Linked DNA regions of Homo sapiens. The protein of the gene in region 7 purifies or fractionates together with the protein of the main gene of each other region. This does not show direct contact. Each region holds a gene or a part of one and is shown on either strand. Other genes may lie near its edges.

Region 1 (4,194 bases), on a different chromosome or scaffold from region 7:
AGGCTTTCATGAGCTTGGCCACATCCACCACCTGCCCAGGGGGAAGCAGAACCGACACAGCGTCACAAGTCTCCCCCAGGCAAAGGGCCCTGCCTAATAATCCAGACATTCCCTGGGCACCCTCCCGTAGCCTTCCATGCTAATCGACGGATCCCATTTTGCAGGAAGCCAGAAGTTTAACCACTTTCACCTTCCTCATCAGGGAAAGGTGGAATCTCAGCTTTTCCAAATACAATGTGCACCACCTGGTGGCACAAACGTGCCAACTTGGCTTGATGGAAACTGTCAGACTTTGCACATTAAAATCCAGAACTAACCGAGGACGCTGAAGTTACTCGGTGTCAACAGTGCTGGGATTACTATCCCCGCTTAAAATAAATGTGAAATGACAGAGTCCACAATTACAGCCTTTAAAGACTGGATCATCTAATTCTAGTCAACTCCTTAGGAAGCAGCTGAAGAAACAAGATAACTGAGGCCCCAGGGGCTGGGAGAGCGGCCAGCTCCCCAGACGCCAGGCCAGCTTCTGCTCCACACCAGCCACCTCCTCCAGCTGGGATCTCCATTAGCTCCCTCCCATGATGTCCCCGTCATTGCCACCCCTTCTCACAGCTGGCCTGGATCCCTGTGCAGGCATCATAACCGGCTTCCATATCCCTGTTTGCTCTCTTCCCTTCCAGTCCCACCCCAGAGATCACTGTCTGTAAATTCACTGTTATGCCATGCACAATCAAAGATCCCACAGTGGTTCCTTGTTGTCTACTGGATCTCACCAAATCCTGCAGCCTGGCACCTGGGACCCTTGAGTCAAGGGCTCTCCACCCTCTTCCCTCTCACTGCACGACTCCCCATCAGCCTAGGGAACCTACAATGCCACATCCTCCAAGCAGCTGGAACGCCCTCCTCAATGCCTCTCCATTCCAAACCAGGCAGCAGGTGATTCCTCTCCACTCACCACGTTGACTTGCTAGCTGTTCCCTTTGTGGAAGCCTCAATAAGCTTCTTGTATTATATTTTTTAAACTTGGAGGCTGGTAGCACATATATTTAGAGGCCTTTTAGTGTGTGTGGTTTCACAATCCAGAATGAGCTGCACCCAGGATGGTCATGCTCCCGGCTCCCTCCTGGTCTCAAGAGGCCACCAGAGCCGAGTCTCACAGCTGTGACACCGCTATAATTGCTAACTAATTTTCATAAGGTTTTGTTGCAAATAATATACTTTTTCAGGGACATCTATGTCACTTCCCTTTCTCTGCCTTTCCTCCAAGGGTAAGACTCCTTGGCAAAATGGAACCAGATTCCTCTGTTGCAAAAGTATACAAAAAAAATATGGTGATCTCAGATTTTGGCCTGCAGGGAACCGGCAGCTGGAAAGGGACCACCACACTGTATTTTCGTGTTTTGAAGAAAAATATTCAAAGAAAATGACCTGGTCAAAGGCATGAGGAAATGGGGTCCTGTTTTTCTGTTTTGTCAAGACCATGAATAAAAAGATGAACTTGCTTTGCCTCTTACCTCACTGGTTTCAAAGAGCAGCTCCCTCTCATCGACCACGATCTTATACGTATTCGCCAGGGGTGCCCCAAAAGAGAGGATGTGTTCATACTGGAAGACTTCCAGTGGTCTTCCCTCTCCACGCTTGTAGACGGAGACGGCGTCCGCGCTGACACCCAACCAGAGTTCCTGAGGGAAGCCACCTTCCTTGCACTGGTGGGCAAGAGTCAACAGAAGAGTTAAGTCATGAAGTGGTTGGCAACAGAAAGCATCTAAACCATAAGACAGGCTTTGAGTGAAGTCCTCTGTGCAGAAGATTAAATATATTCGATGTGCATGCATGCATGGAGGGGCCTGAAATATGAAAAATGGCACCTCTCTGGCTATCTTGATTTCTAACTAGTTAATCTCACGCTTTTGGGAAAACCTCACTAACTGGCAGAGTCTAACATCTTGCTTTGACTCTCCACTTCTCAGCATTATTCTACTAGCTGTTTGGATTAGCTACGTGGAAGTGGCCTGGAAACGTACATGCTTGGCCGGGGGACTTAAGGAAGCTTCCCTGCAACCCAAGCCAAGTCTACTCTTGTATTAATATCTCCAGTTCTGCCTCCAATCCTCTTTGCGGATGGTTAGTCTTCAAATACAAAATCTAGGATCACAGAGGAAAATTCTCCAAATCACGCATGCTGAGCAGTTCTGGCTCCTCTTCACAAGGAGCAGCAATGGCCTTCCATATGCAGAGTGGGAACAGGGACTTTACCAGTTTAACTGTAGACTTTCCTGTACAGATTGGTGGAAGAAAATAAGACCCCATATGAAGGGGCTAACAACACAGGGCTGATCCAAACCTGGACAAGCAGGAGGGCTATAAATTGGAGACGCTGAAAAGAGTCTCTAGTTTATATCCCTAATAACCAGACATTCTCTGCATCCTCCATGCAAAAGCCAGTAGCTTTCTTTTTTCTTTTTTTTTTTGACGGAGTCTCACTCTGTCGCCCAGGCTGGAGTGCAGTGGCGTGATCCTGGCTCACTGCAACCTCCACCTCCTGAGTTCAAGCGATTCTCCTGTCTCAGCCTCTCGAGTAGCTGGGATTACAGGTGCATGCCACCACGCCCAGCTAATTTTTTGCAGAGATGGGGTTTCACCGTGTTAGCCAGGATGGTCTCGATCTCCTGACCTCATGATCCGCCCGCCTTGGCCTCCCAAAGCGCTGGGATTACAGGCATGAGCCACCGCGCCCGGCCAAGCCAGTAGCTTTCTATGCTAATTCACAGCTCACGTTTTGCAGGAAGCCAAGAGTTTAACTGCTATTATCTATTCCTTGTCAGGGAGAAATGGAATTATGGCTTTGTACAAAGCACCTGATTTTTTTATACTTAAAAACAGGCATAATTGAACCAACCAAACCAATCAAAAACATCACCTAATGAAAAGCCACCCACGGATTCTAGAATTTATAATATTTAGAATTTTATACAGCCTCAATATAAAGTCATCAGATATACGCTGAATTACTGTGATCATAAAAAATGGAAGCTAATCTAGACGATGAGCTGGCACACTTATCTGTTAAGGGCTGCATAGTAAAGATTTTTAGACTTTGTGGATCACATGGTCTCTGTCACAACTACTCAACTCTGTACAAAAACAGCCAGGGAATATATCTAAAGGAATGAGCTTGGCTGTGTTCCAATAAAACTTTGTTTAGAAAAAAGGAGGCAGGCAAGATCTGACCCACAGACCAGTTTGCCAAACTCTCATCTAGACAATTAGTAAGATTTCTTTTCAATAAGCGGTCTACTTAAAACAAAACAAAAATCAGTACTGGGTTGATGCCAATGGCTAAATTCCATTACGAGATAGACATTCTTCCTTTCAAACAGATGGCTGTAAAGAAAAAACAAAGTAAAATGCAAGTATATCCAAAGTTTCTAATTTGTATATACAGCTATAACATTTTTTTAAATGTAGATTTTTATCAGTGTTTAAAAAATTAGATCTATAGCTTCCCTAAGGAAGGGTAGAAGAATAGATGACATCTTAATTTTGCATTCATTCCTAATATTACAGATGTGTTTACTACACAGGAGAAGAGAAACTGTGAGGAGAAGGGAGGCGTTAATGGTACAATTCTGGGGGCTCGAATAAAAGAGGTTGAGAGAGCAAAATGCTCCATCTTGTCTTCTCTCCACATGAACTTGGCCGTGATCCATGTTCTCAGATGCCAGCACCCAGCCCACCCCAACACACGGCAGCCAGTTCTCACCTCCACATCAAACAGCGTCGAGCCATAGCCAGGCCACTCCTTGATCAAGGCCATGTACTTGGCCATGGCCTGTTCCTGGTTCATTCCCTGAAATTTCCTCCACTTGTCAATGATACTGGCTCGAGCAGAGGAGACTTCTTCCTTAATCCACATGTCCAGCATCTGCTCCTCCTCGACCTTCTGCCGGACCACGGATCCTGTCCGGAAGCTCCGCCTCAGGGTCCCCTCTAGGAAGCTCGTCCGCCTCTTCTCCAGCCGTTCACAAGGGGTGAAGGTTTTGGTTGACTGGCTGATGCGGGCCTTGAGTCTCTGCAGGGAATAAACCTCTTCGAGAGGTGGGATGGCAGCGTGCAGAGTATAATCCCCCTGCAGATACTGGAGTCGCAGGGCAGCAAGAACCTGGAGGTTTTCTTCCGGGGCTGGATGGTGGC
Region 2 (4,194 bases), on a different chromosome or scaffold from region 7:
TAGAACCATTATATCCACAGCTCTTATCTTCTGAATCAATATATTTCACCATTTTCTCATCAGGTCCTTGTGACTCGTAAGTCATGGACTGATCAGAGGCATCAACATTAAAATTCATTTCAGAACCACAAGATTGACAACTTGGCTCTCCCAGAATAATATAGTCCTTCTTCCGGTTTATTATTTTGAAAGTCTCTTTGCATTGGTTTGTCATTGAGGGAGTAGAGGCTTTACAATTACATCTGACTTCAGAACCAAAAAAGTCACAGCTCTTATCTTCTATATCAATACATTCTGTATTTATACAGCTGATATCTTTGACAGTCAACTGAGGTGGGTCAGTCACTAACTGAAGGGGAATATCATCTGAAATTACTTCATAATCACTATCACCGGGCACCAGATCCACAAGTACCACCTTTGGAAGGTGGGTTTCTTTGACTGATCCTGGAAATTGGTTAACTACTATTTGAAAAGGAACATCAGAATCATACATCATTTCTGAATCACTAGGTTGATCGGTCTTTTCTTCCATGACAACATGCTCTTCCTTCTGAAGGTCTGCCTCTTTGTAAGACACTTGAGGTTGGTCAACTTCTGACTGAAGATGAACACAAGAATGACATTTTATTTCAGAACCACAGACTTCACAGTTCTTATTTTCTAGATCATTATGATCCTTCTTTTGCAAGTTTATTTCTTTGACAGGTACAGAAGATTGATCAGTCACAAACTGAACAGGAATATGAGAAGCATAACTTACATCAAAATCACCTAATTTATAGCTCTTATCTTCCAGGTAAATATGGTCTTCCTTCCAAAGATTTATTTCTTTGACAGGTTTTTGAAGCTCATCTGCTGCTGCCTGAAAAGAGTCATTGGAATCAGAACTTTCTTCAGGACTATAAGAATTACTGCTCTTATCTTCCAGACTGGCATGCTCCTCTTCCAAAATGTGTGGTTGTTTTATCACTGACTGAAGAGGGATATTTGAAACATAAATTATTTCAGAATCACTGGGCACATAGCCCTTATCATCCAGACAAACATGTTCCTCCCTCAAAAGATTTATTTCTTTATTCGCCCCTGGAATTTTATTAGTTACGGACTGAAGGGGTTCATGAGAATCAAAATTTATTCTGGAATCTGTAGGTTTGACAATCTTATTTTCCAAGTCAACATGCTCTTTCCAAAGACTGACCTCCTTAACTACTTCTTCAGGTTGGCCAGCCACTGGCTGAAGAACATCAGAATCATACATAATTTCAAAACCCTTAGCTTCATTTCTCCTATCTTCCGTGTCAACTTCTTCATCCTTCCAAAGGCTTATTTCTTTAACGGTTTCTCTCAGCCGGTCAGCCACTGACTGAAGAGGGTCATCAGAATCAAAACTTACTTCAGAACCACAACATTGATTGTGCTTACCTTCTAGTTCAATGTGCTCCTGCTCCAAAATAGTTATTTGAGGTCGATTGACTATTGACTGACCCAAGAAACCAGAATCCAAATTCATTTCTGAACAACTATATTGGCTGTTCTTAACTTCCAAGTACATATGGTTTTCATTCCCAAGGTTCACATGTTTAATAGCTACTTTGGGTTGATCAGCCACAGATTGGACAGAAACATCAGGATGATGTATTAATTTATAAGTACTAGGTTCATTAATCTTATTTTTCAGGCCAATAACCTCTTCCTTCCATTGGTCTATTTTTTTAACCGCTTCCTGAAGTTGTTCAGAATCAAAAGTTATTTTAGAATCACCTGATTTACTGTTTTTGTCCTTCAGATTAACATGTTTTTCCTTCAAAAAAGCTAGTTGAGGTTGGTCAGTCATTGACTGAGGTGGAACATTAGAATCCAAAATTATTTCAGAACCACTACATTTATCATTCTTGTTTTCTAGAACATATTGCTTCTTTCTGTTTATTTTGTTAACAGCTACTTGAGGTTCAGTTACTGAATAATGAGGGACACCAGAATCTAAACTTGTTTTTGAACCACTGAATTCAGTACTTCTACCTTGGAATTCAGCGTGCTTTTCTCTTTGAAGCCATGTTTCTTTGACAATTACTTCAGGTTTGTGAGTCGCTGCCTGAAGAGGGACATCAGAATCCAAACTTGTTTCAAAAACACTCTTATTTTCTAAGTACATGTGCTCTTTTGTGTGAAGGCTTATTTCTTTAATGGGATCTTCAGAACGTCCAGTCACTGAATGAAAAATGATATTATAATCCAAACTTACTTCAGAATCAATAGGTTCATTTTCCTTATTTTCTAAGTGTACCTGCTCTTCTTTTTGAGGATTTAGCTTTTTAACAGCTACTTCGGGAGAATTAGTCACTGAATGAAGAGGGGCATGGGAATCCGAACTTATTTCAGAACCACTGGGTTCATCATTCTTCCTTTCTAAGTGAATGTACTCTTCTTTCTGAATTACTTCTTTAACAGCTACTTCAGGGTGATCATTTCCTGAATGAAGAGGAATATCAGAATCAAAAGTTATTTCAGAGACACAAGATTCATTACTTTTACTTTCCAGATCAACAGTTTCTTCCTCATAAACAGCTACTTCAGGTTGGTCAATTACTGAATAAAGAGGAATATCAGAATCAAAAGTTATTTCAGAACTATCTGACTCACAGCTCTCATCTTCCAGGTCAATGTGCCGTTCTTTTCCTTCAGCATCCAGATGAGACTGCTCAGTAACTGACAGAAGAGGCGGGTCAGAATCAAAAGTCAACTCAGAGCTGGAGCAATCATAGCTCCTAACTTCCATGTCAATATTTAACTCTTTAAGATTTACTTCATCCAAAGCTTCTTGAGGCTCATCATGAGCTGAATGATAAAGAGAAGCCGGAGAATCAGAACTCAGAGAAGAACGGCTAGACTGAACACTCTTATTCTCAAGGTCAACATCCACTTTCTGACGCTCTATTTCGGCTACTTGAGACTGGTCAGCTAATTGAGCATCAGCCTGAAAACCCATTTCAGGACCATGGGATTCACAGTTCATATCCATAAGGTCAGCATTCTTCTCCTTCAGAAGATTTATCTTTTCAACAGCCCTCTGGGATTCATCTGCAACTGTCCCAAGTGAGACATCACAATCAAGATGTGCTTTAGCACTACTGGGTTTACGCTTCTTATGTTTTAGGTGGACTTGTCTACCTTTCAGGTTTCTTCCTTTGACAGTCAGTTGGGGATGATCAACTACTGACTCAAGAGAAACATCACAATCAAAACTTGTTTCAGAACAACTCGATCCATAGTTATCAACCAAGCTGGTATGAGCCTTCTTCCGAAGTTTTGTTTCTGTGACAGCCACTGGGGGTCTGTCAACCACTGACTGCAGTGGGAAAACAGAATCAGCACTTACTTCAGAGCTACTGGAACCATAGTTCTTATCAACCAAACCAATGTGCACTTCCTTAGGAAGGTTTACTTCTGTTACAGATTGTTGGGGGTAGTCACTAGTGGACTGAGGTGAAGCATCACAATCAAAATTCGTTTCAGAACTACTAGATTCATAGCTTTGGTCAACCAGGCTAATATGCCTTGCATTCTGAAGACTTATTTCTTTAACAATCATTTGGGATTGGTTGGTAACCAAGTGAAGAATGTCATCACAATCAGAACTTATTTTAGAAACATAAGATTTATTATTCTTATACTGTACATCAGTACGTACTTCCTTGGAAAGGTTTACTTCTTTGGCACTCACTTTAGATTGGTCAGTCAGTGAATGAAAAGAGGAACTGCAATCAAAACTCATTTCTGAACCTCTAGACTCATAGTTATCTTCTTGGTCAATTTGCTCCTCCTTCCAAAGACTTAAGTCTTGTGCAGTCTCTTGGGGCTGATCAGATGCTGACTGAAGAGAGATACAATCAAACTTCATTTCAGAACTCACTGAGCACTTCTGTTCCCAAAAGGCTGTCTTGTTAAAAACCAAATGCTTTTCTTCTTGGGTACAATCCATGTTAGAAAAGAATTCCTCATGGTTCTTTGCAATAGTATCTTCAAAGATTCCTTTATTAGAAGGCATGTCAGTTTTATTCGGGTTTACTGCTAATTTGGAAGGAGATTTAACTCTTAAGGAGCCCTTAGTACCCATGCGTTCATGGAATTTCAAGCCAGCTGATAAAGTTTTACCCTGAGATTTTACATCTTTCCACAAAACCAACTTATCTG
Region 3 (4,893 bases), on a different chromosome or scaffold from region 7:
CTCATGTGAGGATGGGGGATCTCTGGAAGTGCTGTTTATGACTTTAGAGACTGCAGCCACAGCGGCAGAAAGTCTACCACTCTGATTACCACATTTAAAGACTCTATGCCATGGTAATAAAATTTATACTGACATTTGTCTTCTGAAAGGTATAAACAGTTATCAAGTTTCTTCATCAAGCCTGAAGACCTCTGGAATTTCCTCCTTCTCCCTTTGTGCATAAAGGTAACAGAAACCTCAGGGCTCTGCTGGATCCCTTATTCAGGGCTGAGGATATCTGTTCATTAAAAGTGACACCTGTGTAACAGGAGCCAGGACAAGGCAGGTCCCTGTGACCAGTGCCTCACCCTAGATGTCAGCATGAAGGAAAGAAAGAGCAAGACCAGCGCTGCCGTGACAGCAAAGACAATGCAAATGTAGAGTTTATAACTTAAGCAGCCACTAAAAATCTAAATATGTAGCTCTTGTAGAAGCACTCAAAAATGTCAATCTGGCCAGGTGCGGTGGCTTACACCTGTAATTCCAGCACTTTGGGAAGCTGAGACAGGCAGATCACCTGATCTCAGGCATTCAAGATCAGCCTGGGCAACATGGTGAAACCCCATCTCTACTAAAAATACAAAAAGAAAGTCAATCAATATCATAACTATGTTCCAGACACTGAACTTTCACATTATTCATTTTCACAATAAATGATGTGAAAACATGATCATTCCGACATTCCAGATTAAACCAAATGAGGTTTAAGGAAATTCTGTGAGTCCCAGCAGGGACAAGTGCTGCAGGGGGAACCCTCAACTGTCTAACATCAAACCTGTGCCCTCACAGAAGCTTTCTCTAGAAATCACATGGACAAGACAGCATCTACTGCGGACTGACCCGGAGAAGGGCCGGGCACAAAGTAAAACCAGTGTGTAACATGAGCAAAATCATGGGTGAGAACAAAGTTTTTAACTGCTCATGTTGCCTGATTTTCTTTAAGGTTTTGTGTTTTAATTAAGAGACCAAGCGTGTTTGGCAGTAGTTTCTACCACAGGTTTTGAGAGATGAACTGCAAGGAAGAGAACAGACACCTTCATCTAAATAGATGTACTATTTCCATTGGTTGGTCCCCATCATGAATTTCCCATTTTGTTGTGATTGGCGTATGAAACTATGAGTTAACCTTTCCTCTATTTAATTTTAGAATTCATCAATTCCAAAGAGAAAGAAGCCTACAAATAAAGCCCAGGGGTACATTCCCATTTCTGTCTATAGGGGACCTGTGGGCACACAGCCTGAGGAGCAGCCCCACTTACTTGAAGGCTGGGGATTCTAAAGACCTCCTCCAAACGGCACAGACCACTTTCACTCAAGTCTAAAATCGGTGAGGAGGAAAAGATGATGCCTCCAACACCCTTGTGAACATCTTTGGAGGGGGTGGCAGGCAAGCTCCTAGTCTGACCAGCACCCTCCTCCAGATCAGCAGCAGCCACAGAGGGAACTTCGTAGGAGCTGCTTCCCTCCATCCGTTCTCTTCCAGGGACAGCAGCTCATCCTCCTTGGTCTGGAGTCACCTGGAGACACGGGAAAGGGAAACGTAGAAGCAACTAATTATACCGAGGCAAAACAGAATAGCTGTGTGGCAGATCTACTGTAATGTAACTTGCTTTAAAAGCTATCATTTTTCCTAAGCAGTAGCAAAAATTTGACTTTTAAACATGTAAAAAAAAAAAAAAGGAATACAAAGAGGTTCAGATTAAAATTCTCTGCTCTCACTTTGTACAATGGAGTTCCAAGATTTAACTCCTGGAAAACGCAAAGGCGCACAATAGTAATGATCATTTTAGGGATGTAAACAGATCGGAACATTTCAAAGCCTGTAAATCAACTGCAACGCTTCCATGAAATGACTAGGGGCGGGTGGAAATTTGCACTGTTTCTTACCTCTGGTGTGGTTCTGTGCCATTTGAACTATGTTTTTAGTTTCTTGAGGCCAGGAAGCCTGTCTTTTGTTTACCATTTTGACCCAGTGACCAGAACTAAGTCTGGCTTACACCCAGTTAAGCACCGGGGAAAAACCTGTTAAATTAATCTCGAATTTTCGTTGTCCAGCAACACTTTTACTCAGAAGTATTGTTCACCAAAATCTCATTCAGCGAGGCACACTTCCACTTGCAATTTCCAAACAATTTATTCGGCAATAAGAATCAACGTTGGAATGCATCAGTTCACCTAATTCAAGTCACTCAACAGCCCAATGATTGGCATATGAGGCGCAGATCAGTTAGGGAACTGTTCCAGGGGCGCAGTTAATTGGGGGGTAGAGGCGACACCGGGACCCAGCAGGGTTCAACCCCAGGCAGCCTGCATTCCATGGAAGCCCGCGGGCTTTTTCACGGTCAGTTCACTTGTTTTCTCCGAATCACGGAACTTAAAACAGAGGAGGGGAGGCTTCAAACCTCAGAACAGGGAAAGTATCTTAAAACCAGAAGTGAAACAACAGCCTGGACTCACACAGGGCCCAGGCAGCGCAGGCTCCGTGGGGTTTCCGAGGCTGCCTTCAAGGGATCCCCACGCACGCCCACCCCCGCTCCCTGCCTCGATTTCCCCATCCGGGCGAGGCTGAGTTGGGTCCGACGCTCTGGGCCTCACATTCCAGGCCTCAGAAGGGCAGCCTTTGCGGTCAGCATCGCGGCTGGAGCTAGGCGACAGGGCACGACGGGCCGAGGCACCACCTTCCTGCCGCCGCCCGCCTCGAGGGCTCAGCGAGCTGGCCGTACCCGCCCCGTCTCACCTGCCGCGTCCCCGCCCACTGAAGCGCTGGCGAGCCCCGCCGCTGAGAGCAGCAGCCCGACAATGGAGGCCACCCAGCCAACGCGGTCGCCATGGAGACGCCGGTACGGAATCCCGCAGGCGCCACGCTGAGCGCGAGTGTGTCTGTGATGCGCCTGCGCGAGGGGTGTGGTGCGCCTGCGCGCGGGGGTGTGCGTGTTGTGGGGGTTTGTGCCTGCGTGCGGGGGCGGGGTGTGGGTGCCCCTGCGCGGCAGGGGGTCGGGTGTGGTGCGCCTGCCCGGGAGGGGGCGGGGTGTGGTGCGCCTGCGCTGGGGCGGGGGGTTGCGCTTGCGGTGGGGGGGTTGTGGTGCGCCTGCGCGGGGGTGGCAGGGGGTGGTGCGCCTGCGCACGCACGCGGCCAACGGTAGCATCCGTTTTTCCGCGCCCGCGGCCTTGAAGGGGTGGTGGTCGACGGGCAAGTAGAGACCGCGAGGGTCTGGAGGGGCGACCGGCCTGGCACAGAGGGGAAGGAAGAGAGCGGGATGCTAAGTGCCGTCTGGGGAGCCGGAGGGCCCGGGGCGGGCGGGGCTGCTCGAGGACAGCCGAGCAGAAAAGAATTGCTGCTGAGGCACCACCTTTGGAGCGGTCCTCGCTGCCTGTCCTTCCCGCTGGGCTCACTCCCCGCGTCTCTCCTGGGGCTTCCTGGAGCCACTTCCCACAGGAGCTGCTTGTCCCCAAATCTTGCCTCAGGACTTGCTGCCAGGGGAACGCAGACTCAGAGCGTCCTCTTTGGAGAAGTAAGGCTGCCTCTGGACGGAGGAGTGAGGGGGGCGAGGAAACGCAGTGAGTGTCCTGAGGAAGGGTTTTGAGAATTTGGAAGAAGATGAAATGACACCGGGCGGGAGGGGAGGTGCTCGCGTGGTCCTGTGGAACCCTGGAGTCCCGTGCACCTTCATTCCAGGATCCAACTGATAATGAAAAGTAGCACCCTCTGTCCCACCCAGAAACACTCTGGAAACCCGGACAGTTTAGCTGGAGTCTGCCATGATTTCACTTTTTTTTTTTTTTTTTTTTTTTTGAGGTGGAGTCTTGCTTTGTCTCCCAGGCTGGAGTGCAGTAGCGCGATCTCGGCCCACTGCGACCTCCGCCTCCCAGGTTCAAGCAATTCTCCTGCCTCAGCCTCCCCAGTAGCTGGGACTACAGGCGCGCGCCACCACGTCCAGCTAATTTTTGTATTTTTAGTAGAGACGGGGTTTCATCATGTTGGCCAGGCTGGTCTCGATCTCCTGACCTCATGATCCGCCCCCCTCGGCCTCCCAAAGTGCTGGGATTACAGGCATGAGCCACCGTGCCCGGCCTGATTCCACTTTTTAAAGGAAACGACATAATTATGTGGAGAAACGACTATCCACTTTGAGGGGATTTACGTTTTATTTTTGTGAAGAGATCACAGTAAGAAATGTTTTTTAGGCCGGACACGATGGCTCACGCCTGTAACCCTAGCACTTTGGGAGGCCAGGGTGGGAAGATCGCTTGAGGCCAGGAGTTGGAGACCAGCCTGGGCAACCCAGTCTCTACAAAAATTAAAAAAAAAAAAAAAAAAAAATGCTGGGTGTGGTGGCACACACCTGTAGTTCCAGCTGTGTGGGAGGGTGAGGCAAGAGGATCGCTTGAACCTAGGATTTTGAGGCTGCAGTGAGTTATGATTGTGCCACTTAATGTCAGCTTCGGTGACAGCGAGACCCTGTCTCAAAAAAAAAGTTTTCGTACATACCCAACTATCTACCAATCAGGAAGCTGAAAGCACAACCAGTACCTTCTCAGGAGCGTGGGGAGGCCAGCCACCCGGGCAGAGCAAGGAGAGAATGAGGAGTGACATGGGTGTTGCCGTGAGTGGCGAAGGGGATGGAAGATTTCAGCACGATGCTATTTCTAACAAGTTTCAGCATTCCAGTATCTCTTTTCACAAATAAAACATTTACTAACCATTTGAGCGTATTCCCTCTTGCTTGTTATTGTTGCCTCAGGTTTTTGTTTCACATTTTTCATGCTACATTAATTTTTGTAGTCAGTAGTTAATTGTATGTACGAGCATGTTTTGCCCTTTACTGTGCTCAGTTTTTGCCCAGCCAGATTGTA
Region 4 (4,194 bases), on a different chromosome or scaffold from region 7:
TGTCCAAAGTCAACCAAGGAAGCACCATAGCATGGCTCTTCTGGAACCGACCTAATCGTCATGGGGGTTCTTATGGAGCTGCAAGACTGTGTCCAGAGCCAATCTCAAAGTAGTCTTGGATCCAAACGTAAATCTGTCCGACCTAAGCTTCCAGGGAGTGAAGGGTGGGCAGCAGTTAGGGTGACATTTGCCATAAATGGTGCACCCATTGATGCTCTCACTTCAGCTTCAGACAGTGGCCTGTGGGCTCCTGGGTATGTCAACATATGACTAAATGGCAAAGCTGCTGAGGGGAGGAGTGAGTGACTAGCAATGAATCAGAGAGAAGATTCTCAGGAAAGAGGCTGGGCTTTTATAGATAGAGAGGAAGGAAGGATGACTTAGCCATTTCCAAACCTACCTGAACAGATACATAAATAATGCCAAGAGGAATGACGATGATGGTGAAGACAGGAGTGGCCATGCAGATCATGACAAGGGTGCTGATTATCCCCAGGAAGCATGTAATCCAGCTGCGCAAGGACTGAGGCAGGGTGTCATCCACTGTGGAAATATCCTAGGAAAACGATTAGGAGAGATACACCATCACTGAGGTCTTCCTAAGATAGTTTACATCTTCCTAGTTCTAGCAAGGAATCTGTTGGATTCTGTGTGTTCCCAGTACTCCTTCATGTAATCATTTCATTGTGTTCATTTGCAATAGGCTGCATTGCTTGCCCCAATAACCAATTTCATTTCCATAATTTCTTCATTTAGGCCTGGCGTGGTGGTCACACCTGTAATCCCAGCACTTTGCAAGGCCGAGGCGGGTGGATCACCTGAGATCGGGAGTTCAAGACCAGCCTGACCAACATGGTGAAATCCCATCTCTACTAAAAATACTCAGGAAGTTGCTTCCTCTGCTAAGCATAGAGGACCAAGGGGAAGGGAGCTGGGGTTGAATGTGAGCCTGCCTGGACAGTGTTCTAACCAAGGAACCCAGCGGGAACAGATGTGTCTTACTGCCATGTTGCCTTCGTGTCATGTGAAATAAATGAACAAATAAGAAAAATGAATGAATGGATGGATGGTTTGGAGAACACTCAAGAAGCTTGGTTTATATTTTGGGTTGCCCTTGCCTAAATTTGTGGGGATTATATTGATTCTATGATTGGTAATATGTGAGTACCAAAGTGAGTTTAAGTTATCTCTGGAATTTCTCAAACTGTATCAGGGATAATGGTCTTCCAGGAAAGCTCTGAATCATGGATGACTCCTGAGTCTAACCTACCTTTCCCAAAGTCCTATCAGAATGCAAATAACTATACCCACAGTTGGCAGAGAAAAGAAATCCCTACCAGTTATCAGTTCTATGCAGATTACTTTTGATCCTTACCTGGCACAGAGTCTCCATCTTTCCTTCCTCCACTCCATCTCCTCTTAACTCAGCCATTGATCCCAGAGGCCCCTTGATCAAACTCCCCTTAATAGGTCTGAGCCACCTCCCCAACGAAACATACTATATAATTAATGACAGTTTCCTTTCTCATGCAAAAGCAGTCTTCAAACTATGACTGTTGCCTAAGTAACTCACAGAAAACCTCTGTGTTCTCTTTCCCAGAAGATTATATATATTACAACATGGGGAAAACTGTGATCTTTACAAAATTACTATGAGAAATTTCTCACCCAAAATTGAGTGTTCTTTTAGGTTCTAGTAAAGAGCAGAAAGGCCATTGAAGTTGTCTCTAGTGACATCATGCCCACTGTTTCTGCCCCAGAGGAAGATGACACAGGGGGACCAGTTAATGGCCCACTTTTGAAGCAGTTACTGTGTCCCCAGAACCTGGCTGTGGACTGTGAGCTATACTTTCTATGTCTGCCCCAAGACCAACAAACAAGAGTCCAGAGCTGCTCCATAAGCACAGGGCTAAAAACTGTGCTGGTGATAGTTACTTATCATTCAGAATTGCCTGATCTCTGCCTCTGTTCCTGAATTCCCATCTCAGATACACTAAAAAATCAGTGAGTTGGGTCTGGCCCATGGAAGAGAGACATCTATGATCTTCACATTCATTGAGTGCCCCAGTGTCTAGTACAGTAGTTGGCTCATAGAAAGTGCTCAATAACGGTTGTTGAATGAATGAATGAGTGAATGCCAAGGGGTCCAGGATCTGTGGTAGATGGAAACAATATTTGAGAACTTTTTAAAATCACTGATGGCTCTATTCCATAGTCCAGACCAAATTTACTCATTCTTAAAGCATTCAAGATAGAAGTTTCAGGAATGGAGGCAGAGGCCAAGCAAAGGGTTATCCTACTATCTCTTGTATTTCCTGTCCCAGGCTGTGACAGTGCTTTTATTTATGTTCCTTCCTCTGCAGAATAATCCTTCTCACCCTGCTCTACTGCCATCCCCCAACCCTTGCCATCTCCCTGGCTTGCTTCTATGACTTAAGTTTCACCTTTTCTGACATTTCCCACCTTTATCACGCAGGCTGGGCTAGTGCCTTTTTTTCCTTTGTACTCCCAGACCACCTTTCTACACACTGCTGTTACTGGTTTTACTATATTCTATTATAATCCTTCACTTCTTTGGTTGTCTTCTTCACTAGATGCTGAGCTACTTGAAGGGTCAGAGATGTTCATCCCTCAATCTCCAGGATTCTTGGGAGCTCACAGCAGGTACTCAAGAAACACTTGCATGTTGAGTGACAAAAGAACTGGAACTGAACAGTGTTGTCTAGGGGGACATAATAATTCCTCCCTATCAGAAAGATCCTCAGTATATAAACACACCACCTGACAGTTCTTGAGATACTTACGCCGGCAAACCTGTTCACAATCCGGCCTGTGGGTGTTGTGTCAAAAAATCTCATAGGTGCTCGAAGGATATTGTTCAGCAGTTGCTTGTGCAAGATATTTGATGCATGGACGAAACCAAAGGCACTCCAGAAATGTGCTATGAACACAAATATACCTAGAGATGGAAGCAGTTTTGTCAGCACCATGCACAGGAATCCCTGAAGACTTGTGCCCAGGACATAATGGCAAATGCATTCCTGAGTCCAGGAAAAGTACAGGGTCCAGACAGATTCTGTAAGATGTCATAGCCATCAGACATACCTTGGGCTAATCCCAGAGCTCCGTAGACTCCAACTCTCATGTCCCTCTGAGATGCTGGATAGTCGGTGCTATTGAAGATTTTAGAGTCACTGGTCCAAGCACTGAGCCAGAGGTTGGATCCAATAAAAGCCACAGAATTCATCACAAACGCAAGGATGATGAAGAATATCGAAAACAATCCTATTGCTTGTAGGTACTCCAGGTAGATGGAGAACTTCACCTGCAAAGTCCCCACCTCAATATTAGTAGAACTCCCTAATGGCTTTTGATAAGGAATCACCTAGAATGCCAACCACAAGGAGAAGTGGAGTCCCCTGGGAGCATGGGTAGCAGGTAGCAAAATTTGGTAGTCTGTGGTCACCATTTCTGCACTGTGCCAGGAAGGATAATAGAACAATGCTGAAATACAATGCAGGGTAAATAATCATCAAAGCTAAAGGCATTTAAGAGGAGAAGATATAAAAACAGATTGGGACAAGCCAGACATGATAGCATGCCCCTGTAGTCCCAGCTACTCAGAAGGCTGGTGTGGGAGGATCTCTTGAGCCCTGAGGTTTTAGTCCAGCCTGGGCAACATAGTGAGACCCTGTATCTAAAATAAACACACAAACAAAAAATCAGAGTGGAACAGATGATGGGGTTCTACTGCCGACCTTGAAATTTGTGGTTAAATTTCATTAATTTGAATTATGTGCTCTAGGTCTGAGTTTTCCTGTTCCTCCACACATCAGAATGGAATCAAACACTCATGAAGTGTAGGATGAGGACATTCACAGGAAACATAGCATTCTTTATGGAAATATGACTTGGTAGAAAGCCCACAGCCTCTGCTAACAGGTTAATAATGAGTCTGAAGATTTGCAAAGGACAGAGGACATATTGCTCCTGTAAGTATGCGTTCAATTTTCACTGAACGTTAAAAATTTTGGGTTCTAAACCTTATAACACCTCAAATGCTACTTTTCTGTGTGGTGTTCACCTTTCCAGTTTCTATGAATTCCTTCTTAATTAGTTTTTGTCCTTTCACTAGTTCTTCGTCTTCCTTCAGGCTATTCACATTCCGAGTTTTCAAGGAGTTTCTCAGGGACT
Region 5 (4,194 bases), 1.4 Mb from region 7:
TCACTGGCCCCACCCACTGCTCCTCTGGCTCCACCCCCACCCTGGCACTCTGCCCACAGCCCCTGGCAACTCCACCCACTGCCCAGCTCTCACCAGAACGTCTGCTTCAGGATCATGCCTTGCTCCTCCAGCCACGTCTTTCTGGCCTCTGCTGTCTTGCCCTTCCCAGCATCCACCATGGCTGGTGGGAATTCTAAGAAAAGACCCACCAGAGGCTTTGGAAGGCACCCACATCCTTGGCTACACCAGGGTGCAGTGGGTGGTTTGCTGTATGGCAAGGAATGCAGATGCCGCGGCCCAAGACGCCCCCTCCCCCCCACCCAGGAGAGAGGAGCCTGGTATGGCAGGGGCCCGCTGGGGAAGGGGCGGGCATGGGCCTCTGAAGAGGAGGGGGGAAGCCTGAGGTAACTCCAGCGAGGGATGCAGAGACGGGCCACAGGAGCTCACCTTGGCCCGGGGGCGTGAGGCTCACTGCCTGGGAGAGGGCAGCCAGCACCGACTGCTCTGCCAGCCCAAGGCGCAGCCGTCCGCTCAGGGACCTGGGGAGAGAGCAGGCCAGGGAAGGGGGCTTGTCTGCACCTCCCCAATCTTGCCTCCTCCCTTCTCTGATCTCCTCGACCTTGATGTATGTAGACCCTCTCCTCAAAAACCAGAAGAATCTTCAGAGCCTGGAAGGGACCCCAGATATCACACAGCCCCATGTGACAGATGAGGAAACTGAGCCAGGCAGTAATGATCCTGCCCACTAGCATAGACTGGGGAGGGGCACAAGTAGGTGCACCAGCACCTCCCATCTCAGCTGCCCTGAGGGGTTGGCGAGGCTTGAGGAGGATGAGTCAGGGAGAGAACTGAGCCTGGCGCCCGCCCTGGTGACTGTAATGGTCAGGACCCCAGCATGGTCCTTGCTTTGAGCCAGTGGCAGGAGACAAGTGGCTTAGTTTGCCTCCCCATGTCTCCATTTCCCCTTCTATAAACTGGAGGTGAGGGTAACAAGACCAGTCTCACAGAGTTGCTGGTAGGAACTGATGAGGTAAGGCACGGGGCACAGGGCAGGGCTCCCAAGAAATGCTCCATGATGTGAGCCCTCAATGGATTTGCTCTCACTGTCATGGCAAACAAACCCTGGCTTCCTGCTGCAGGGCCCGCGCCCAAGCCGAGGCAGACCTCACCAATCAATCACAGCATGCTTCACCCACAGGGGCCCAGGGGCCTTCTCTAGACAGCACTACCAAGGGACAGAAGCTGGCCTGTGAAAGGAAATGGTGTCCCTTCCCACTCTTTAGGGGCTGGGCCTCCTGCTCATGCTTTTCTCATCCAAGGATGGTCAGGGCATTTGTGATGATTCCAGCTGCCAGTCCCTCCCTCCTTTCACCTCCGAGCCTGCAGTCCCCCTCTGTAGCCTCACAGGCCCACACGCTTACCTAGCGATGAACCGGGCTTCTGAGTGGCGGCAGGCCACAAAGAGGCCTTTGATGATGTCTATCTTCTTGGCTGTGGACTGGAGAGTCAGGGGAAGAGCCGTCAGTGCCTGGTGAAGGCAGGGACCACACCTCCACCCCACCAGCCGTGCTGCTGCCCTGCATTTTGGAATACCTGCCCTCCTTCCCTCACCCCATCCCCATGTCCCAGCTCCCATGGCCGCCCACTCTTAGGGCAGTAAGAACGAGCTAGCTCTCCTCCTTGCCTCCCTCTCCCTTTATCCAGGAAGTATTTACTGAGTCCTGTCATGTGGCAGCCATGGCATTAGGTCTGCTAGACTCTGAAGAGGAGACTCCCCTAGGATTGGGTGCAGGAAGGAGGAGAGGAAGCTGTGCACCCCATGAGAAGGACTGATGCGACCCAGCTGATGGTCTACCCAGAAGCCTTCCTGACACACGCGTGGCCTCAGGTCCCCAAGATGTCTGGGGTCCGGGATGAGCGGCCCGCCCCACTCACAGCACTGCCAGTGAGCCTGGCGATGTCGCGGAACTTGCTGAAGACCCCGGAGGCAGTGAGCGGAGGTGGTGGCAGCATGAGCCTCTGGGTGCTGCGGCTGTTCTCGGCCACCAGCCCCACGTCGCCTTTCTCGGCTGCCTCAGCCCGGACGGACTCCAGCTGCCGACCTTCAGGGGAGAGCGCGGGTGGGGGTGTCGAGGGTGACAGTTGTGGCTGCGTGTCTCCCTTCTCTCGCGGCCTGGATGAATTTTCTCCAGCTGTGTGTGCTTGTGGCGAGTCCCTGCACCTCCCTGTGTCTAACGCTCACCCACTTGGTAGAAATGGCTTGGGGAACGTGCCCCCAGCCACGCTGGCTGTAGGAAGTCAGCAAACATGCACGTGGAGCCAGGAAAGCGGTGGATGAACGAGCATGACCACACTCAGGGGAGACATCTGGGCCGGTGTCATCAGGGCGCGGATGGGATTTAAAGCCACAGGCGGGACAAGGTCACTAGGGAAGTGAGTGTGGACAGAGCAGAGAAGGCCAAGGGACCCTTTCCTCTGGCGGGTCATGAACATCTCTGGCAGTGACCAAAGACCCTTCGGCTTGTTTTGGAGCCACCAGCTTACACACGTGGGATGTGCTCTGGCCCCACTTACTGTCCAGAGCTGGGTCCCATGGGCGCCTGGGTGTAAGAGCTGGGGAGATGGAGCCTCAAGTCACGGTGACAGCTGTGACAAGCAGCTCTCAACCTATCAGAACCAACACACCCTTGTCACCAGATACTGTGTGTCACCTCTTTTCTGGTCTGAAATAAAATGTGGAGATAACATAACCTGCCTACACCTATCGAGATAACGCCCTAACCCTAACACAGAAAAGAATGAAAGGGAAAGCAATCCGTAATGAACGAACAAGTGCGCGTTTCAGTCCACAGATGCTCAGCCGCGGCACAGAGCACATGAAGGTGGGCCTCGCGCCTGAAGCGAAACTGCCACAAATGGGAGAGCCGACAGTGTGAGCCTCACCAATGGGATGTTATCGAATCACACATCAAAGGGGACGGGATTCTCCAAAGTGGCCAACAACTCACAACAAACCCGGGACTTGGACAGCCACGGGGGCCACAAGGCGGCACGGAGAGCAGTGTGAGTGTGAACACGACCCATCAAGGGTGGAGGCATGAGACAGTGGAAGAGGCCCCAGCTGCCATGGATTGTTGGGCAGGAAAGCCAGCATCTGCAACTTCTTTTGTGAGAAAAACAGATCCTTCTTTGTCCAAGCCAATGTAGTTGGGTTTTCTGTTACCTGCAGCTCAGAGTATTCTTAACCGACCCCGTGTGTGCTGGGTCTGGTATGACGTCAGTGCTCCCGAAACACATCTTGAGTGAATGAGTGAGAAAATCTTGAGTCTCATCTCCTCTGGCTCCCATAAGCCCGTAACTCTTTCCTGATCCAAGTCAACCTTTCTCAGTCCCTCTGTCCTCTCATGAAAGCCTGAAACCCCTGCCTTCCCTAAATGTTGGTGCCCATGGCCCTAAGCCAGCTCCAGTGCTCCCAGCACATCCTCTCCCCAGGCGGATGAGAACCCACCAGTGGGTGGTCATCCCTCCTACACTGACCAGCCCGAACCCTGGGCTCTGAGCCAGACCTGGTGAGCCTCAGACCCGTTTCCAAACTTCCTGGATGGCCCTGGGGGCCCACAGATAGAGGTTGCTCATGCCTGCCCCACGCTGGGGTGATTAATGCCCCCTGCAGGTGCCTGCCCCTCACCAGGGTCCCAAGCTGCCGACGGCTTTGTCATCCATCCAGTCACCCAGGGAGATCCTGGAGGCATTCCTCCTGCCTCCTCACCCTGACATCCACTGTCTGCCAGATCTCTCCTGCCCTCTTCTCTCTTCTCTACAGCTGGGGTCCAGCTCCTCTTCCCCCTGGATGCTGCCCCTTGCCTGCTCACAATCCTTCCATGGCTCCCCAGTGTCCTCATGATAAGCACCGAGCACTCCAGGCCCTTGGCAGGCGGGCCATCCGCATCACCAGCCTTTCCACCCAGCACTGGCGGCTGGGCCCCTTCAGGCTGCTGGCCCCCCACACACCATGTTCTTTCCTCCCACTCCTTCCAATCCCTCCAGTCAAAGTCCTTTCAGACCTCTCTAAGCCCCAACCTTCCATCTCAGCCCCCAAATCCTGCTGTCTCTGCCTCCAGCATCTTTCCCCAGCCCTCCCCTTCCCTGCACCCCACACCCCCTGTCCCAGCACATGCCTGGTCCTCCCTCACC
Region 6 (4,194 bases), on a different chromosome or scaffold from region 7:
TGGTGGCCACTCCATTTCAGTTTATCTAAAACAACGCTTCACATTCCTCTGCCCCTTCCTTCATCTTCTCCCCCTTCTCACTCCACAGCCCCCATCCTGACCAACCAGCATTGAATGTGCTGAGTCTATAGCAATGTTTGAATCTGGATCATTTGGTTCAAACGTGGTGCTGAATAACTCTCTTGAAGAGCTATTTAAGCCATCCTCCTAGTACCAAGACCACTCTAAAACTAAGCCCCAAAATGTGAACATCATCTAGAGGCGACATTTTAAATTTTTTAAATTATGTATCCATTAAGTAAAATGAATCTCCTTTACCTCTAGTAAAATGTTCAGAGTGTTTAATTCCATTTGATTCATACAACAATTCTATACTAAGGAAGATAGAGTACTATAATAGACCTGAAATCAAATTTTATAAAAGAAGAAGCCTGGGCAACATAGTAAGACTCCCTCTCTCCAAAAAAAAGAAAAGTAGCCAGACGTGGTGGCTCATGCCTGTAGTCTCAGCTACACGGGAGGCTGAGGTGGGAGGATGCTTGAGACTGTCATTGTGGCACTGCACTCCAGCCTGAGCGACAGAGTGAGACCCTGTCACAAGAACAAGGAGGAGGAGGATGAAAAGGAGGAGAAGAAGGGAGTGGGGGAGGAAGAGTGGGGAGGAGAGAAGAAGAGGGAAGAACAGGAGGACGGGGGTGGGGAAGAAAGAAGAAGGAAGAAGATGACGAAGAAGAAGTAGGAGGAGGAGGAGGAAGAAGAGGACGAGGAGGGAAGGAGGGAGAAAGGAAGGAAGGAGGGAAAGAAAAACATGAGTTCCAGTCCCGTCCCTGCTCCCTCCAAGCTACAGGTCTCATGTGACTTCAGGCCAGCCACCTAACCCCTACAGGTACCTCACAGTAGAATGTCTGTTGGGAATTCTGTGATCTCTAAATTTGCTTCCAGCTCTAACAAACTATGATCCTACTATCATTCTCATTTTACAGAAGACAACTAATGTTCAGGGAGGAAAAGGAAATTGTTCAAGACCCTGTGGTCAACAAATGGTGGAGCACAGACCAGGGCCTGGTTCTCTTAGCCCTAATCCATTCCTTCCACAGCAGCTTGCTGGTCTAAATCACAGGCACTAGGGCAGCTGGAAAAGAAGTCACCAACGAAAGTAATTAGAAATGCAGTTTCAAAGTTCTTTTTCCTGCACTAAGACATATACTTAGAATGGAGCCAAATCAAAGTAGATGTGCTCTCTAGCAGAAACTTAACTAAAAATTGCTCAGGATGAGATGGCAATGGTTCCTATTTGATTACAAATGTCCCCCTTAAAGTGTTACGAGTGTTCTAGTCAAGTCTAACAACAAATCAAGAAGCCCAAATATGGTGAAATCATAGCTTTTCTTCCTCCTTCCATGTGCAACACTGTATATACCACTAATTGGCAGATGGTGTGAAACTGGTCTGATCTTTAAGAGGACTTGGACCATCCTAGAATCACCATTGCCATCTTTGTGCTAACCGTCAAGAAGCTCAGCCAACCTGGAGTCAAGTGCAGGCCTCATCTTAGTAGTGACTCTGCCTGTCTTCTCTCGCTTGGTAACAGAAACAAAAAGACAACTACCCAAATGGAGTAACTGGAGTCGCCAACATTTCTTAGTGCCTTTTGTGTGTCCAGCACGGTTCTGCTTATGGTAAGTAATTTTCCCAACAGCCTGTGAGTTCGTTATTATTATTAGCTCTAAACTGAGCCACAGACCTCGTGCATACCCTTAAAGAGGAGAGAAGCCAAAACTGTATATTGAGTTGAGAGTCCATTCGCTTAGCCACCAAAAATGTACATAGGATTCTACTGTCCATTTAGGACATAGAAGGCATATATATACCTATATCGGCAAATGCATGTACATAGATGCGTGTGTTGTGTATAGATAAAAATAGGTATGTATAATTATTATAATATGCCTTAATTCGCTTTTAAAAAGGGAGAACATGTTAGAGATAACTATGTAAACATGTGCCGTTCGCAAAGTGGCTAAGTCACTCTAGAATGCCAAGTGTGGGTTGACAGTGTAAGAAGGGAAGGTCGGCCCCAGCGGGCAATGATTCACCCAGTCTCGCTAACAACCCTCTTCCCTCCCAGACTTGCACAGTTAGGGAATAGAGGAAGGAATTCCACATGAATTTCGGCTTACAACATGTGTTTAAAAACTTAAAGTCTTGCCACCAAAATATGAAATTCATGATTTTAATATTCCACCAGCATACCTCTTTAGTATAATGTGAAAAAATGTCCGCTTTTATTTTCATTTGTCTTGCTATCCTTTCTAGTTTTTGACTGTTTCTTCACAACATGGTTCACATTTTGTTCTCATGGTGTTTGTTGTTTTGTTACCCCTTAATCATGTGTTTCTGAGACGGTTGTGCCAGGCATGGCTACATGGGCAACTCTGGCGTCTCAGGTGGCTGCTCTTGGCATGACTGTCCTGAGGACGGCTGCGTGGGGGACTCCGGCATCTCAGGTGGCTGCTCTCGGTGTGGCTGTCCTGAGGACAGCTGTGTGGGGGACTCCGGCGTCTCAGGTGGCCGCTCTGGGTGTGGCTGTCCCAGGCATGGCTGCGTGGGGGACTCTGGCATCTCAGGTGGCTGCTCTCAGTGTGGCTGTCCCAGGCATGGCTGCTCAGAGGACTCTTGTTCCTCAGGTGTTTATTCTTCTTGTCTTAGTGATGATTTTTCTTGTGATTGTCCCATCGGTGGTTCTCTGTGGGCTTCTATTTCTACTGGGGTTTCTAGTAGTACAGGTGTATTTTCTTCCTCTAGAATGTCATATGATTCTTTTTCTTGTTTTCAGTAAATAAAATAAAACAAAATCACCAATAAATCTAGTAGCCACCTAAGTCAACTGAAATAAATCATAAAAAGACAAACATTGCTGCTATATCATTGACTTAGTAGTGACAGTGATAATACTAACAAAAATACTTTTCACATAGGGTATTACAAGTGCAATGTGTTTTTGCATGCATTATCTCAAACAAGCATAAAATATGATGAGGTACCATCAGAGAAGCTAGAATCAAAGGTGTGTTACCAAATGCTAATTACACAGACACATTCCATTAGTCATTTAAAAATTGAAAAGTCACAGGGAAGATTCTTGCTCTTTCTGAGTTAGTGAAACAGAAAAGGCATTTTTAGTAAAATGAAAAAGAAAGAAATCAGAGTGCAGGAGAATCCAGAGGCCATGCCCTTCACAGTAGACCCCAACACATTAGAACCAACTTTCGGAGCTCAGGAAGAATACCCCATAGCAATCAACCTTTCACCGGCCAAACTACATTTCCTGATGCTAACATTACCTTTCCTATGGGGATGAATGCCATTTGGCAGAGGAAATTAAAAAGATGCTCCTGAAAACTGAAAACAAAACCATTTGAAATAACACTTGAAAAGAGGTCTTCAGCGAGAAGCCTTGCAGAGCCTGAGAGGGGCCAGGTCGCTCAGCTGACGTGGAGAACTCGGCACATTCACACACTGCCTTCCCCAAAACCTGCTCATCCCCTTGTTTTCAGAAGTAACGCGTAGACCCAAACCAGAAACCTCAACTCCAATTTCATTCTCGCCACCCATATCCACTTTGTGGCCCAGCGCGGTCCATTTTGTCCACTCCCAGGAATCTGTCACTTCCTGTCTGGGTCCCTGGGTCCCACCCCTGCCTGGGTCCAGGACTCCACACCTGAAAGAGAGAATACGATGCACACACATAATACTCTCATCCCTTTCCCTTCTCCCCCTGCTATCACAGCCACTTCTTAGAAACATAAATTTGATCACATCATCTCCCTGCTTTAGCATTACCTACAGGATAAAGACCAAAATCCTTACATTGACAGACGAGGGCATGGCGACAATGGCCAGGTGACCACCAAAGATGTGGACCTGCCCGAGACTGTGTTACCAGACAGAGAACAGCTAAACGGGGCCAGGCAACTAGTTCAGACCAAAGGGATGTGAAACGTGATGTGTCCCTTCTGGGCTGAGATGGCTGGGTATCTAATGTGGCTTCCTGTGTCTTTCCTTCTCCTCCTGTTGCAAACTCAGAGACCATGTGTTGAGGACAGCAGCATGACAAAATCAAGGATCCCTGAGTCACCGTGTGGAGGAGAGCCACCCAGGAAAGCCTCCAATCCACAGTAGGCTGCTGTGATC
Region 7 (4,194 bases):
TAAAAATGTGTAGGCTGGGGGCACAGTGGCACACACCTGTAATCCCAGAACTTTGGGAGGCTGAGGTGGGAGGATTGCTTGAGCGCAGAAGTTCAAGACCACCCTGGGCAACATAGCAAGACCCCCTATCTTAAAAAAAAAAAAAAAAAAAAAAGAAGAGGAATATAGGTCAGGCGCGGTGGCTCATGCCTGTAATCCCAGCACTTTGGGAGGCCGAGGCAGGTGGATTACCTGAGGTTGGGAGTTCAAGACCAGCCTGACCAACATGGCAAAACCCTGTCTCTACTAAAAATACAAAAAAAGTAGCTGGGCCTGGGCGGGTGCCTGTAGTCCCAGCTACTTGGGAGGCTGAGGCAGGAGAATCGCTTGAACCCAGGAGACAGAGGTTGCAATGAACTGAAATTGCATCACTGCACTCCAGCCTGGGCAACAAGAGCGAAACGCCGTCTAAAATTAGCCAGGGATAGCAGTGCATCCCTGTAGTCCCAGATACTCGGGAGGCTGAGGCAGGAGGATCACCTGAGCCCAGGAGTTTGAGGTTACAGTGAGCCACAATCACACCACTGCACTCCAGTGGGCAACAAAGCAAGACCCTTTGGGAGGCTGAGGCGGGTGGATCACTTGAGCTCAGGAGTCAGGAGTTCAAGACCAGCCTGGGCAACATAGGGTAGACCCTGTCTCTACAGAAATACAAAAATTAGCTGGGTGTGGTGGACGAGCCTGTGGTCCCAGCTACTCGAGAGGCTAAGGTGGCAGGATCGCTTGAGCCCAGGTGGTCGAGGCTGCAGTGAGTCAAGACTGCACCACTGCACCAGCCTGGGCGACAGACCGAGACCCTGTCTCAAACAAAAAATTATTTAAAAAAAATTGTAGTGCTTTAAAAGGTTTGCCTCAGGAACTGGGAAAATTTATAAATATGAGGTGATGTCAGCCCATTGTAGAGAAAAAGAAATTGAGGTTCACTGTGCAGGAGGGTCTTCCCCCAGGGTCTCTTGGAGGGTTCTGTGTATACCTCTGGGCCTTGCCTCCCTCGCCTTCCTCCTCCTCACTGGCGTGGAGCGCATTCTCTGAGTGGGAGCCAGGGATGACACCGGAGTCCTCTGACTCATCCATGAGGGCGCTCTTGTCAGCCTCGCTGAAATCGGTGGCCTCCTCCATCGGCACATCTGTGGGGACGGAGGCATCAGAGGGGTCTCCACCCAGTCCTGCCCCTTCCCCTTTCTCCCCAGCATCCCCCCAGCCTCTCACCTCCATTGATAAGGGCCTCCCCCAGGCAGTCATTAGGGACGCGGGTGGCGCAGCGTTTGTGACAGTTAAACTTGCAGTCTGGTAGGACAGGGAACAAGGGAACGGGTGAGAAGGGGAAGAGAGGTTACCTGGAAGGCTTGAACCTTGACCCTAAGCCTCAGGCTCAAAAGAGTCTACTCTTGCTGTCTGGGTAAGAACACTGGCTGCTGCTGCCCTGGTCATTTTCCCACTTTCAGCCACAGTTTTCCCAACCATCGGGGGGGTCTTGATTAAGTAGGAGGGCTAGACTCAAAATCCCGACGACTGCTGGGTGCAGTGGCTCCCGCCTGTAATCTCGGTATTTTGGGAGGCCGGGGAGAGCAGATCATTTGAGGTCAGGAGTTCGAAACCAGCCTGCCCTACATGGTAAAACCTCGTCTCTACTAAAAATACAAAAATTAGCTGGGCGTGGGACTACAGGCGCCCACTACCACGCCCAGCTGATTTTTTTGTGTTTTTAGTAGAGACGGGGTTTCGCCATGTTGGTCAGGCTGGTTTCGCGCTCCTGACCTCAGATGATCCACCTGCCTTGGCCTCCTAAAAGTGCTGGGATTACAGGCGTGAGCCACCGCGCCCGACTTGTGTGTGTGTGTGTGTGTGTGTGTTATTGGTTCTAATGTGCTGTGACTCCAGACTCTGAACACCCTAGGGCTGGGTTCCTCAACCCGTGACACTAACACAGTGCCCAGGATAATTCCTTGTTTTAGGGCACTTGCTCTGTGTATTGTAGGATGTTTAGCTGCATCTCTGACTTCTACCTACTGGATGCCAGTAGCACTATCCCAGCGTACCAAACAAAACCATCTCCAACCCTTGCCAAACATCCCCTAGGAGCAAAACGGCCCCTGGTCGAGAACCATTGCTGTAGAGTTCAGTGTTTCCACGGTTCTAGGGACACTATACATCGAAGATTCTAGAGTTTACTAAAAACCTATTTTATGAAGGTTCTATGATTCTGTTTTTTGTTTTTTTTTTTTTTTTTTAAGAAACAGTCTGGCTGTCACCCAGACTAGAGTGTGCAATGGCACCATCTCGGCTCACTGCAACCTCTGCCTCCCAGGCTCAAGCGATCTTCCCACCTCAGCCTCCTGAGTAGCTGAAACTACAGGCACGCACTACCATGCCTGGCTAATTTTTCGTATTTTTTGTAGAGATGGGGTCTTTCCATGTTGTACAAGCTGGTCTTGAACTCCTGGGCTCAAGCAATCCACCCACCTAAGCCTCCCAAAGTGCTGGGATTACAGGTGTGAGCTACTGCCCCTGACCTGATTCCGTATTTCTAAGGCTTCAGAGTTTGATGTCCAAGTTTCTAGAACTCTAGACATCTATGAGTCAACACTTCTAAGACTCTTTAATGTCCAAGATTTTAGGGTGTTATATATCTAAACTCTAAAATTTGACAGTTCTAGGGTTCTACAATTCTAGGCTTCTCTACCTCCAGAATCTGCAGATTCCAAGGTTCTAGGATTCTATACATACAAGATTCTAGAATTTGATGTTTCTATGCTTCTTTAGCTCTAGGCTTCTAAGATTCTAGAATTTGATTGTTCCAGTAAATTCTTGAATTGGATGTTTCTAAGTTTATGTGGATCTAGGCTTCTGAGGTTCTAGAATTTTTTTTTTTCTTTTTTTGAGACAAGTTCTTGCTCTGTCACCCAGGCTGGAATGCAGTGGCACAATCATGGCTCACTGCAGCCTCAACCTCCTGGGCTCAAGCAATCCTCCCTCCTCAGAGTCCCAAGTAGCTGGAACCACAGATGCATGCTGCCATGCCTGGCTAATTTTTAATTTTTTTTGTAGAGACAGGGTTTCACCATGTTGCCCAGGCTGGTCTTAAACTCCTAGGCTCAAGTGATCCACCTACCTTGGCCTCCCAAAGTGCTGAGATTACATGCATGAGCCACCACACCTGGCTGGATTCTAGAATTTGATTGTTCAAAGTTCTGGGAGTCTAGAATTTCCAGGATTCTAGGTTACGATGGTTTCAAGCTTATATGATTCTAGACGTCTAAGACTCTCAAATTTGATGTGCCTATGTTTCTATTACCCTCAAATCCCATGGTTCCAAAATTCTCATGCTCTGAGAGTCTATAACTTGGGAGATCTAAGATGTGTAATCTAAAGTTCTGTTGTTATTTTAGCTGAATTCTATCATTCGGAATTCTTGAATGCTATGGTTCTGATTCTAGAATTCTCAGGTTCTACAGTTTTAGAATTCCATGCTAAGCACGTTATGAATCTAGGATTCCAAGGTTCTAAAGACTGAGGTTCAGCTGGGCGCGGTGGCTCACACCTGTAATCCCAGCACTTTGGGAGGCCGAGGTAGGAGGATTGCTTGAGCCCAGGAGTTCAAGACCAGCCTGAACAATATAGTGATACCTTCTCTCTACAAATGATTTAAAAATTAGCTGGGTGTGGCCAGGCGCGGTGGCTCACGCCTGTAATCCCGGCATTTTGGGAGGTCGAGGCAGGTGGATCACAAGGTCAGGAGATCGAGACCATCCTAGCTAACATGGTGAAACCCCGTCTCTACTAAAAATACAAAAAAATTAGCCAGGCATGGTGGCGGGCGCCTGTAGTCCCAGCTACTCAGGAGGCTGAGGCAGGAGAATGTCCTGATCCCAGGAGGCAGAGTTTGCAGTGAGCCGAGATCACACCACTGCACTCCAGCCTGGGCGACAGAGTGAGACTCCGTCTCAAAAAAAAAAAAAAGAAAAGAAAATTAGCTGGGTGTGGTGGCACCACCTGTAGTCCTAGCTACTTGGGAGGCTGAGGCAGGAGGATCACTTGAACCCAGGAGGTTGAAGCTGCAGTGAGCCGTGATTGCGCCACTGCACTCCAGCCTGGGTGATAGAGTGACACCCTGTCTCCAAAAAACAACAACAACACACACACACACACACACAC

What was found.
Region 1: the proteins of PRKD2 (region 7) and MYO10 purify together in Homo sapiens (affinity purification with mass spectrometry, with the first as the bait; one large-scale study listed by BioGRID). This does not show direct contact.
Region 2: the proteins of PRKD2 (region 7) and ZDBF2 purify together in Homo sapiens (affinity purification with mass spectrometry, with the first as the bait; one large-scale study listed by BioGRID). This does not show direct contact.
Region 3: the proteins of PRKD2 (region 7) and LRRC27 purify together in Homo sapiens (affinity purification with mass spectrometry, with the first as the bait; one large-scale study listed by BioGRID). This does not show direct contact.
Region 4: the proteins of PRKD2 (region 7) and ABCC2 purify together in Homo sapiens (affinity purification with mass spectrometry, with the first as the bait; one large-scale study listed by BioGRID). This does not show direct contact.
Region 5: the proteins of PRKD2 (region 7) and LIG1 purify together in Homo sapiens (affinity purification with mass spectrometry, with the first as the bait; one large-scale study listed by BioGRID). This does not show direct contact.
Region 6: the proteins of PRKD2 (region 7) and DCDC2C purify together in Homo sapiens (affinity purification with mass spectrometry, with the first as the bait; one large-scale study listed by BioGRID). This does not show direct contact.

The regions. Positions count from the first base shown.
Region 1 is NC_000005.10:16,666,763-16,670,956, forward strand, and holds part of MYO10 (unconventional myosin-X), read right to left. Parts: coding exon 3,764-4,194; intron 1,707-3,763; coding exon 1,515-1,706; intron 32-1,514; coding exon 1-31. UniProt on the Homo sapiens protein: Myosins are actin-based motor molecules with ATPase activity. Unconventional myosins serve in intracellular movements. MYO10 binds to actin filaments and actin bundles and functions as a plus end-directed motor.
Region 2 is NC_000002.12:206,305,325-206,309,518, reverse strand, and holds part of ZDBF2 (DBF4-type zinc finger-containing protein 2), read right to left. Parts: coding exon 1-4,194.
Region 3 is NC_000010.11:132,330,140-132,335,032, reverse strand, and holds the start of LRRC27 (leucine-rich repeat-containing protein 27), read right to left. Parts: upstream 2,841-4,893; 5' UTR 2,777-2,840; exon of another isoform or gene 1,927-2,776; intron 1,557-1,926; 5' UTR 1,509-1,556; coding exon 1,299-1,508; intron 1-1,298. Other genes in the region: STK32C (serine/threonine-protein kinase 32C), read left to right, coding at 3,297-3,597.
Region 4 is NC_000010.11:99,830,742-99,834,935, reverse strand, and holds part of ABCC2 (ATP-binding cassette sub-family C member 2), read right to left. Parts: coding exon 4,085-4,194; intron 3,326-4,084; coding exon 3,106-3,325; intron 2,960-3,105; coding exon 2,805-2,959; intron 557-2,804; coding exon 401-556; intron 1-400. UniProt on the Homo sapiens protein: ATP-dependent transporter of the ATP-binding cassette (ABC) family that binds and hydrolyzes ATP to enable active transport of various substrates including many drugs, toxicants and endogenous compound across cell membranes.
Region 5 is NC_000019.10:48,135,587-48,139,780, forward strand, and holds part of LIG1 (DNA ligase 1), read right to left. Parts: intron 2,103-4,194; coding exon 1,936-2,102; intron 1,499-1,935; coding exon 1,422-1,498; intron 540-1,421; coding exon 448-539; intron 194-447; coding exon 94-193; intron 1-93.
Region 6 is NC_000002.12:3,842,702-3,846,895, reverse strand, and holds part of DCDC2C (doublecortin domain-containing protein 2C), read right to left. Parts: intron 2,888-4,194; coding exon of another isoform or gene 2,879-2,887; exon of another isoform or gene 2,826-2,878; coding exon of another isoform or gene 2,802-2,825; exon of another isoform or gene 2,220-2,801; intron 1-2,219.
Region 7 is NC_000019.10:46,699,787-46,703,980, forward strand, and holds part of PRKD2 (serine/threonine-protein kinase D2), read right to left. Parts: intron 1,327-4,194; coding exon 1,249-1,326; intron 1,167-1,248; coding exon 1,013-1,166; intron 1-1,012.